Linked DNA regions of Homo sapiens. The protein of the gene in region 1 interacts with the protein of each later gene in a pairwise test. Each region holds a gene or a part of one and is shown on either strand. Other genes may lie near its edges. The genes, in order: ZNF639 and CTNNA2.

Region 1 (3,920 bases):
AACTTAGTGAAGCAGCAAAAATAGTATGTGCACCTCAGCTAGAACACCTGTCATGTGTATCACCTTGGTGTTAAGAGCATTATAGGCCGGGCGCGGTGCCTCGTGCCTGTAATCCCAGCACTTTGGGAGGCTGAGGTGGGCGGATCACTTGAGGTCAGGAGTTCAAGACCAGCCTGGCTAACATAGTAAACCCCCGTCTCTACTAAAAATACAAAAATTAGCTGGGTGTGCTGGCGGGTACCTGTAATCCCAGCCTCCTGCTGGCGGGCGCCCGTAATCCCGGCCACTCAGGAGGCTGAAGCAGGAGAATCGCTTGAGCTGGGGAGGCAGAGGTTGCAATGAGCCAAGATCGTGCCACTGCACTCCAGCCTGGGTGACAGAGCAAGACTCCGTTTCAAATAAATAAATAGATTAATAAATAAAGTTGGGTAAACCTTTATTCAAATCCCAACCCCAGCATTTACTGAGTATCTAGCTTTGACTTTACTGTGCCTCAGTTTCCTCAATAACAGGAACTATAATTTTGAGAGGGTGATGTGAATTTTGCATCTCATACGATTACATAGGATTAAATGAGATAAAGTATGTTCACAGCCTGGTACATAATTGGTGGTCAGTAAATTATTATTATCACTTTTACTTTTTTCTTTTTTTGTTTTGTTTTGATTTTTTGTTTTTGAGAGAGAGTCTTGCTCTGTTGCCCAGGCTGGAGTGCAGTGGCACGATGTCAGCTCACTGTAGCCCTCCGCCTCCCAGGTTCAAGCCATTCTCCTGCCTCAGCCTCTTGAGTAACTGGGATTGCAGGTGCGCACCATCACACCCGGCTGATTTTTGTATTTTTAGCAGAGACGGGATTTCACCATATTGGCCAGGCTGGTCTCGATCTTTTATTTCTTAAATAAATAATCTATAAGGGCTGTAACAGTTTAAAGTTTATAATTTGGGCCAGGCAAGGTGACTCACGCCTGTAATCCCAGCACTTTGGGAGGCCCAGGTGGGTGGATCACCTGAGGTCAGGAGTTTGAGACCAGCCTGGCCAACATGGTGAAACCCCGTCTCTGCTAAAAATAGAAAAATTAGCCCGGTGTGGTGCCACATGCCTGTAATCCCAGCTACTTGGGAGGCTGAGGCAGGAGAATCGCTTTAACCCAGGAGGCAGAGGTTGCAGTGAGCTGAGATCGCGCCATTGCACTCCAGCCTGGGTAACAAGAGCAAAACTCGGTCTCAAAAACAAAAAGTTTATAATTTGGTTTGCTTTCATTATGCTTGCTTTCCTTATGGATGAATAAATTAATTCAGATTCATAGTCCTATTTTGGTGTCAAAAGATTTAACTATAGGTCAGGCATGAGACTGTCTCAAAAAAAAAGAACTATAGAAGGTAAATCATTTCAAAGAAATGTGGAAATTTGCATATAATCACATATTTATCAAGATATACAGTTTTTAGTATGTAGTACATTGTTTTCAAAATAATATATCTTAATTAGTTCTGTATAACTTTCCAATTGATTAAAGATCTGGTGCCATTGTATTATTCAGTACCAGAAATGAGCTGTATTTTTGCTTAATAACTTCTTTCATGTTTTACTTACAGGCATTTTTTACTGTCTACAGAAACTTATTGTAATTCATTTTTCCTCACTCCAGTAGTAAGAATTATACCAAGTAAGTGGACTGTATTGAAACTAATTAATTTTGTAACAGTTAATGAGAATTTAATTGGATAGTGGTTGCTGCATGTGTTGTGTTCTCAGTGGAACGTTGAATGTGACCTCATAAATAGGAAAATGATTTTTTTCTTGAAAATTATTTATATTCTGATCTGTGTGATGAGTACTTTTTTCTGGAAGCCAGGAGGCCGATACATATTTGTGACAATATTTTTTTAAAGGAAATGTCTCCGCCTTTAGCTTGAAAACTACCTAAAAATACTTCCAATGGTAGGAAATGTGCCTATAAAACTCCTAGTATGGTGCCATAGGCACAGTGTTTCTTTTTTTATATATACACAAAATAAAATGACTTAAACATGTGGTTTATTGTAATTATCCAGTTCTCACAATTTATATCAACATTTGAAAAAGAATTTTTTAACCTCCGTAAGAAAGAAAACAGAAATCAGTTTCTGCCTTGAAACCTGACTGGAAAACAATCTGAAATACAAACAGAGGCATCATTTAACACTTTTCTTATACCATAGATTTTCAGGTGGCTCACATATTTCATATTGCCAATAAATTCTTCAGTTAGAATTTTTATAACGTCATTAACAGTTGTTATTTGTGACATATTTGTTAATTTTTTCTCGTTTTTTAGATTGAAAAGATATGAATGAGTATCCTAAAAAAAGAAAAAGGAAGACTCTACACCCTTCTCGTTATTCAGGTCAGTGTATAATTATTTTAAAGTTGGGTATGGATTAATTCCCACAAAATTATATTCTCATCCATTTTCTCCTAAGTGATCAGATAAGACTTAAATATCTGGGTCAATATTTAGGTAAAACAACGGTTTAAATACATTATCTGAATATATATTCCTTATTGTCTACCATGTGCTAGGCACACATAAGAACTTTACAGACATTATATTATTCCTCACAGCTCTATGGGTTATAAATATTTAAAATTAGATAGCCAAGGTTATTTACTTATATAACATAATTGGGATTTGCATGTCTGATACCTAAGCTGTGCTTAAGACCCAATAATGACAACCTTGGTAGAAAATATTTTACATTATTGGGGAAAAAAGACTTTATCCTCTTTATTACTTTAGGAAATGTAAACTTTCATGCTGAATGTGTAATTTTTTTTTTTTTTTTTTTGAGACAGAGTCTCACTCTCTAGCCCAGGCTGGAGTGCCATGGTGTGATGTCAGCTCACTGCAACCTCTGCTTTCTGGGTTCAAGTGATTCTCCTGCCTCAGCCTCCCAAGTAGCTGGGATTACAGGCGTGTACCGCCACACCTGGCTAATTTTTTGTAGTGTTAAAGTAGAGATGGGGTTTCACCATGCTGCCCAGGCTGGATGACTGTGTAATTTTAGATCCTTTCATTGAGGTTGGCTCTGCTGTGTTGGCAGTATAAGAAAAGGGGTCTTTGTGGCCATCTCTAATACACCTCGCATACATTTACTTGGGACCATCTCAGTCTTACCTATTAGTCTACCCAGCCTACACATTCTTCATATCTGAAGAAATTAACCCTAGTATACTGCTTACTGGCCCTTCCTAGACAACACTTGAAATGACTATATTCAGAAGCCCTAAGTGGTCCTTACCATTTCCCCTATGTAACAACCTTTCTCTGCATGACATGGCACACCTTCCTGGTGTTTATTTCACTGTTTTGTGCAGTTAATACAGTGTTTATCATATATTTTTATTTTGTGTGATTCTGAGTATAAAACAAATGTATCCTTGTATATTTCAAAGTTGTTATGTTTTAGAGTATGTAATTTGTGGTTCTTTCAAAGTCCTATGTCAATATTGGATCTGAAATATAAAAGCTTTAAAAGTTGAAAATGTATAATATTTTCATTACAGATACTATAATTAACATTAAGAACATTTGTATAAGTTAGATAACGGGAAGTTTCTCATTAAATATGTATGTTTACTGTACTTGAAATATTTTTCATTTTATGTTCAGATTCCTCTGGAATAAGCAGAATTGCAGATGGATTCAATGGAATTTTCTCTGATCATTGTTACAGTGTCTGTTCTATGAGACAGCCAGATTTAAAATATTTTGACAACAAAGGTATATCTAATATTTTCGAAAATATGTTTCTTTAAACTGCTTTTACATTTTTTATTCCTTACTTGAAAATGTGGGTAAAATGTGGATTGATGATTTCAAAACAGACAAGTCTTTGAAATTTGTTACAATGTAAGAAAACAAAGTTGTATTTTTTTA
Region 2 (3,920 bases), on another chromosome or scaffold:
ATGGGGAGTTGAAGGAGTCCATCACTCCTAATATTACACACTTCCCCAGCACTGACTCAGGTGATTAACTATCAGCTCTTCATCAAATCAGCACTCAATCACTTAGGAAGGCAATTCTCTTCATCTCAACTCCTGCTTTACACTCCCATAAAATGCAAAACTGCATATTGCACTACTGTCATATAATAATTTAAATGAAAAGAAAAAAATCAATAATGTGTTCCACAGCATAGTGTCTTACTGGCAACTTCAAAGAATCCACCATTAATTTTGGTCCCTCACACATACTCCTTAAACACAAAACACAGCTATTCTAAAGATATTAAGGTTTTTTGGTCTGTTGTTTTAGGAGAATATAAATAGAACAAAATATAGGCTTCAAAATATCCATTTTTGATTTATACTTACACTGTTGGACCCTTCTGAGATGATAAATATGCTAAACATTCTGAGGCATGGCTGTCCCGCCATGTAAAAATAAACTTTACAGCAGCAATGCTAACAGAAAGAATTGTCAAATTGCCAATAACATGTATAATGTAAGGGGTTAGAATGCAAGCTGAAGAGAGCAAGGTAAATTATAGCATTCTGTGAAAATAAGTGATGTAAAACCAACAGCAATTTTAAATTATTAACAATGGTTCCGAAGCTAATTCAACTTTTCCATTGGTGTAAGCCACAAACAGAATCACACAGCATGTTTCTCTTTAAACATCTTCAGGGGTCCTACGAGGTGGGTGAAAATGGGTAAGGGTGTCTGTTAAAGGCTCTAATGCAGCTAATGCCATCTAAATGGTATATTTACAAGCCTGTGGAGTATAACCTCATTTCTCCAAAACTGTCTAACCATTATCCTACTTGAGAAGTTAACCCATGATGAACAAAAGTACCTCTCTTCCACCCTTCTGCTCCCTATTTTCCCAAACCTTTCTATCTTGGTATTTTGTATGCTGAGCAAAACATTCCATAAATAATGCTGTGGTGCACAGGCATTAAAGTTTAGAGAGTTTCTGCCTTTGAAGTAGGTAGTGACAGGACCAAGGACACACGGGTTCAATTCCAAGCCAAATATGAGGCGGGTGGTTTGAAAATGTCAAACCAAAGAGGCCTAGGGGAAAAGAACACAAGCTTCCACTGCCACCTCCCTTCCTCTCCCCTCCCCTTTTTCTCTCTTGTTCCTTTCCTCTCTTCTCCTTTTTCGTTGTGGTTTCTCACGGAGACAATCAAAGCAGGGAAGGCTGGATTTTAAATTGGTGAGACACACACTGGAAATATGTAATTCCCAGAAGAAAAAAAGAAACTGCTGAAGAGGGGTATGGGGGCTGTTGGCAGCATGTCCAAGTGACAACCCTCCCCACCCCCACCCTAATATAGCACAAATCCACAGATTCTTCTTCGATCCTCTTCTCCCTCCAGTTCCCAGTACTCTACCCAACTTGACCCTTCATCCTAAAAATTTAGGAATCTGCAGGGCACCCGCTGTTTAAGAGTGTGTCTCTCAGTATATGCACCCAATTTTCTGGAACCCCTGAATCCGGACAGTTGTAGCAGGCAAGGGATGCTCCCACCCTCCCACCGGGGAAGAGGTAAGAAAGGGGGGAAGAAGAGATGGAGACAAGAGGAAAGGGATGCAGAGCTGTGCTCTAGGGCGAGTGGCTGCAAGGAAGACGGGGAAGAAAGAAAGGGTGGGAAGGAAGTGGGGCTGGGAGAGAGGAAGAAAGGGATGAAAGAAAGGCTGGAAGGGAGAAAGGAGGGGAGAGGAGAGAGGGATGTTGGGAAGGATGAGGGAGGGAGGGTTGGGGAGCGGGGAGGGGGGAGGATGGAGAGGATGGGAGGGAGGTGGGGAGGGAGGGAGGCAGGCAGGGATGGAGGATGCTCTGCCCGGGACTCACCTCTGTGGGTCGGTGGGAGTTTCTCGCCTCCTCCTCTTTCTCGCCCGTTCCCAGCAGCTGGAGTGGTAATCACAGAAGGGACTGGAGAGGCGGCGGCAGGGACAAGGGCAGCAGCTGCTGCAGCCGCCTCTGGCCGAGGTGCGGTGCCGCCTGCTCTGCCCGCCCGCCTGGGTCTCCGCCTCACTCGGGGCTGGAAGCGAAGCCGCTCCCCCCTCCCCCCGCCCGCCCCGCGTCCTGCCCAAGCGCGAGCGGCAGCGGCCCGGATCGCCGCTAGGGGAGGCAGCCAGTGCGCATGCGCGGCCGCTTGCTCGCTCGCGCGCCCCCGCGGTCCCCGTGGCTCCGCGGCGCCTGGAAAGGCACCGGGCATCGAGGGGTGGCTGGGTGGGGGGCCGCGGGCGCGCGCGGCCTGGGGAGCGCCCGAAAGGGCGGGGCGGGGTAGGGCGGAGCTCTGGAGGCGCGGCAGGCTCGGCGCCGCAGGTGGGGGGAGGGGACGGCGGCGAAGGGGCACCGCCGTAGGGCGCAGGTGCCGTGTCCATGACAACCGCGTTACCCTGCGGGCGGGGACCCGGAGCTGAATCGCCGGAGTCGCGAGGCCCGGGGAGAGGGACCGGGTGCGGGAGCGGGCAGGATAGGGGCGGGGGGGATAGGGGTGTCGCAGAGTAGGAAAGGAGGGCCAGCCCAGCAGGGGTCCGACACGTGGCAGGAGGAGGGCAGGGCCAGAGTGCTGCAAAGGTAGTGACTGCCGCGGAAGGGAGGTTTGTTGGGATGTGGAGTCCCGAGGGGAGAGGAAGGGAGATTTGGACTTTAAAAGAACCTAGAAGAGGATGGAATTGTTAAAACAACTGGAATATTTGCTCATTTAACAAGCCTTTGTTGAATATTTTCTCCGTGGAAGGCATTGTGATTCTTTTCTTGATTCAGTGGATATTACTTGGCTCCTAGTTTGTACCAGACACTGTACTTAGGCATTTTGAGATATCCAAAAATGTTCGTCCTCTGAGAGGTTATACTGTAGTTGGGGAACTTACATAGCTAGGGCAGGGAGTGTTTGCGCCGCCAGCCATCGGCAGCTGGGACTCGATGTTGCTGGAATGTAACTGTTACAGAGGTGCTAACAGTGAAAAAGGTACACAGCTACATCAGATGAGAAATATAAGTTACAGTCATCTTTGTTCTGCCACAGTGCCAAATGACAATTTTGTTTTGTTTTAAATCAAGAGAGAGAAACAAAAAGAAAATCTGTGGAAGTTTAGTATGACACAACCGACGCTAAGTTCACAACATGCTACCTGTTTGGTATCCTAGTCCACTAGCATCAGTGCGTGTGTTCATGCCGACACTTGGATGGCTTTATGTCACTTAGTGCATGCATTTTTTAAATTCTCCTTCATCAATGGCTATGCCATTGATATTTTTCCCTCCCCCCTTTTGCTTCCAAGTTCGCGTCTGCAATTGTTTGAAAATTACATAAAATCCTACTATTTTTAATTCTCTCTAGGGAATGACTGGAGAGGGATACCTCTGTCCATGCCTCTATCTTTCTCTCCCAATATCTTTTTGGCTTTCTTTTTTCTTGTCCCCACCACTTTACCAATTTAAAAATTCCTGGGAAAAAGTGAACAGGAGTCACCGGATATTGGCTTAAGAAGAATCTTAGCACGCAACCATGTTTCAGGACCACGGACAGTGACACCGCGTGCTCTTACCACCTAGCGTTTTTCTTAGACTGCCTATAGAAACAGGAGAAACACGCTAAAGGCACACGATGTGCTTCATGAAGTGCCGAGCGCCAAATGATTTGTGCCAAAAGGTATAAAGAGTGGAGAATGAAAAGTGCATACTATGGACTGGAGTAGGTAGGAAGGAGGTAGGCCTTCAGCTGAATTTTGAAGCATGAATAAGATTTAGAGAGGCATCACAAGTCCCTGATGTGGTAAGATGTGGTAAGCACCAGCGAGGTGCTTAAATAAAAAGGGATACTGCATACAGTGTCATTCCAGAGGCAGAAGACACCTATGAATTTGAATG

What was found.
Region 2: the proteins of ZNF639 (region 1) and CTNNA2 interact in binary tests that used the Homo sapiens proteins (3 or more experiments, as listed by UniProt).

What each region holds. Positions count from the first base shown.
Region 1 is NC_000003.12:179,325,965-179,329,884, forward strand, and holds part of ZNF639 (zinc finger protein 639), read left to right. Parts: intron 1-1,000; exon of another isoform or gene 1,001-1,380; intron 1,381-1,596; 5' UTR 1,597-1,667; intron 1,668-2,318; 5' UTR 2,319-2,329; coding exon 2,330-2,387; intron 2,388-3,653; coding exon 3,654-3,764; intron 3,765-3,920. UniProt on the Homo sapiens protein: Binds DNA and may function as a transcriptional repressor.
Region 2 is NC_000002.12:79,511,180-79,515,099, reverse strand, and holds the start of CTNNA2 (catenin alpha-2), read right to left. Parts: upstream 2,050-3,920; 5' UTR 1,893-2,049; intron 1-1,892. UniProt on the Homo sapiens protein: May function as a linker between cadherin adhesion receptors and the cytoskeleton to regulate cell-cell adhesion and differentiation in the nervous system. Required for proper regulation of cortical neuronal migration and neurite growth.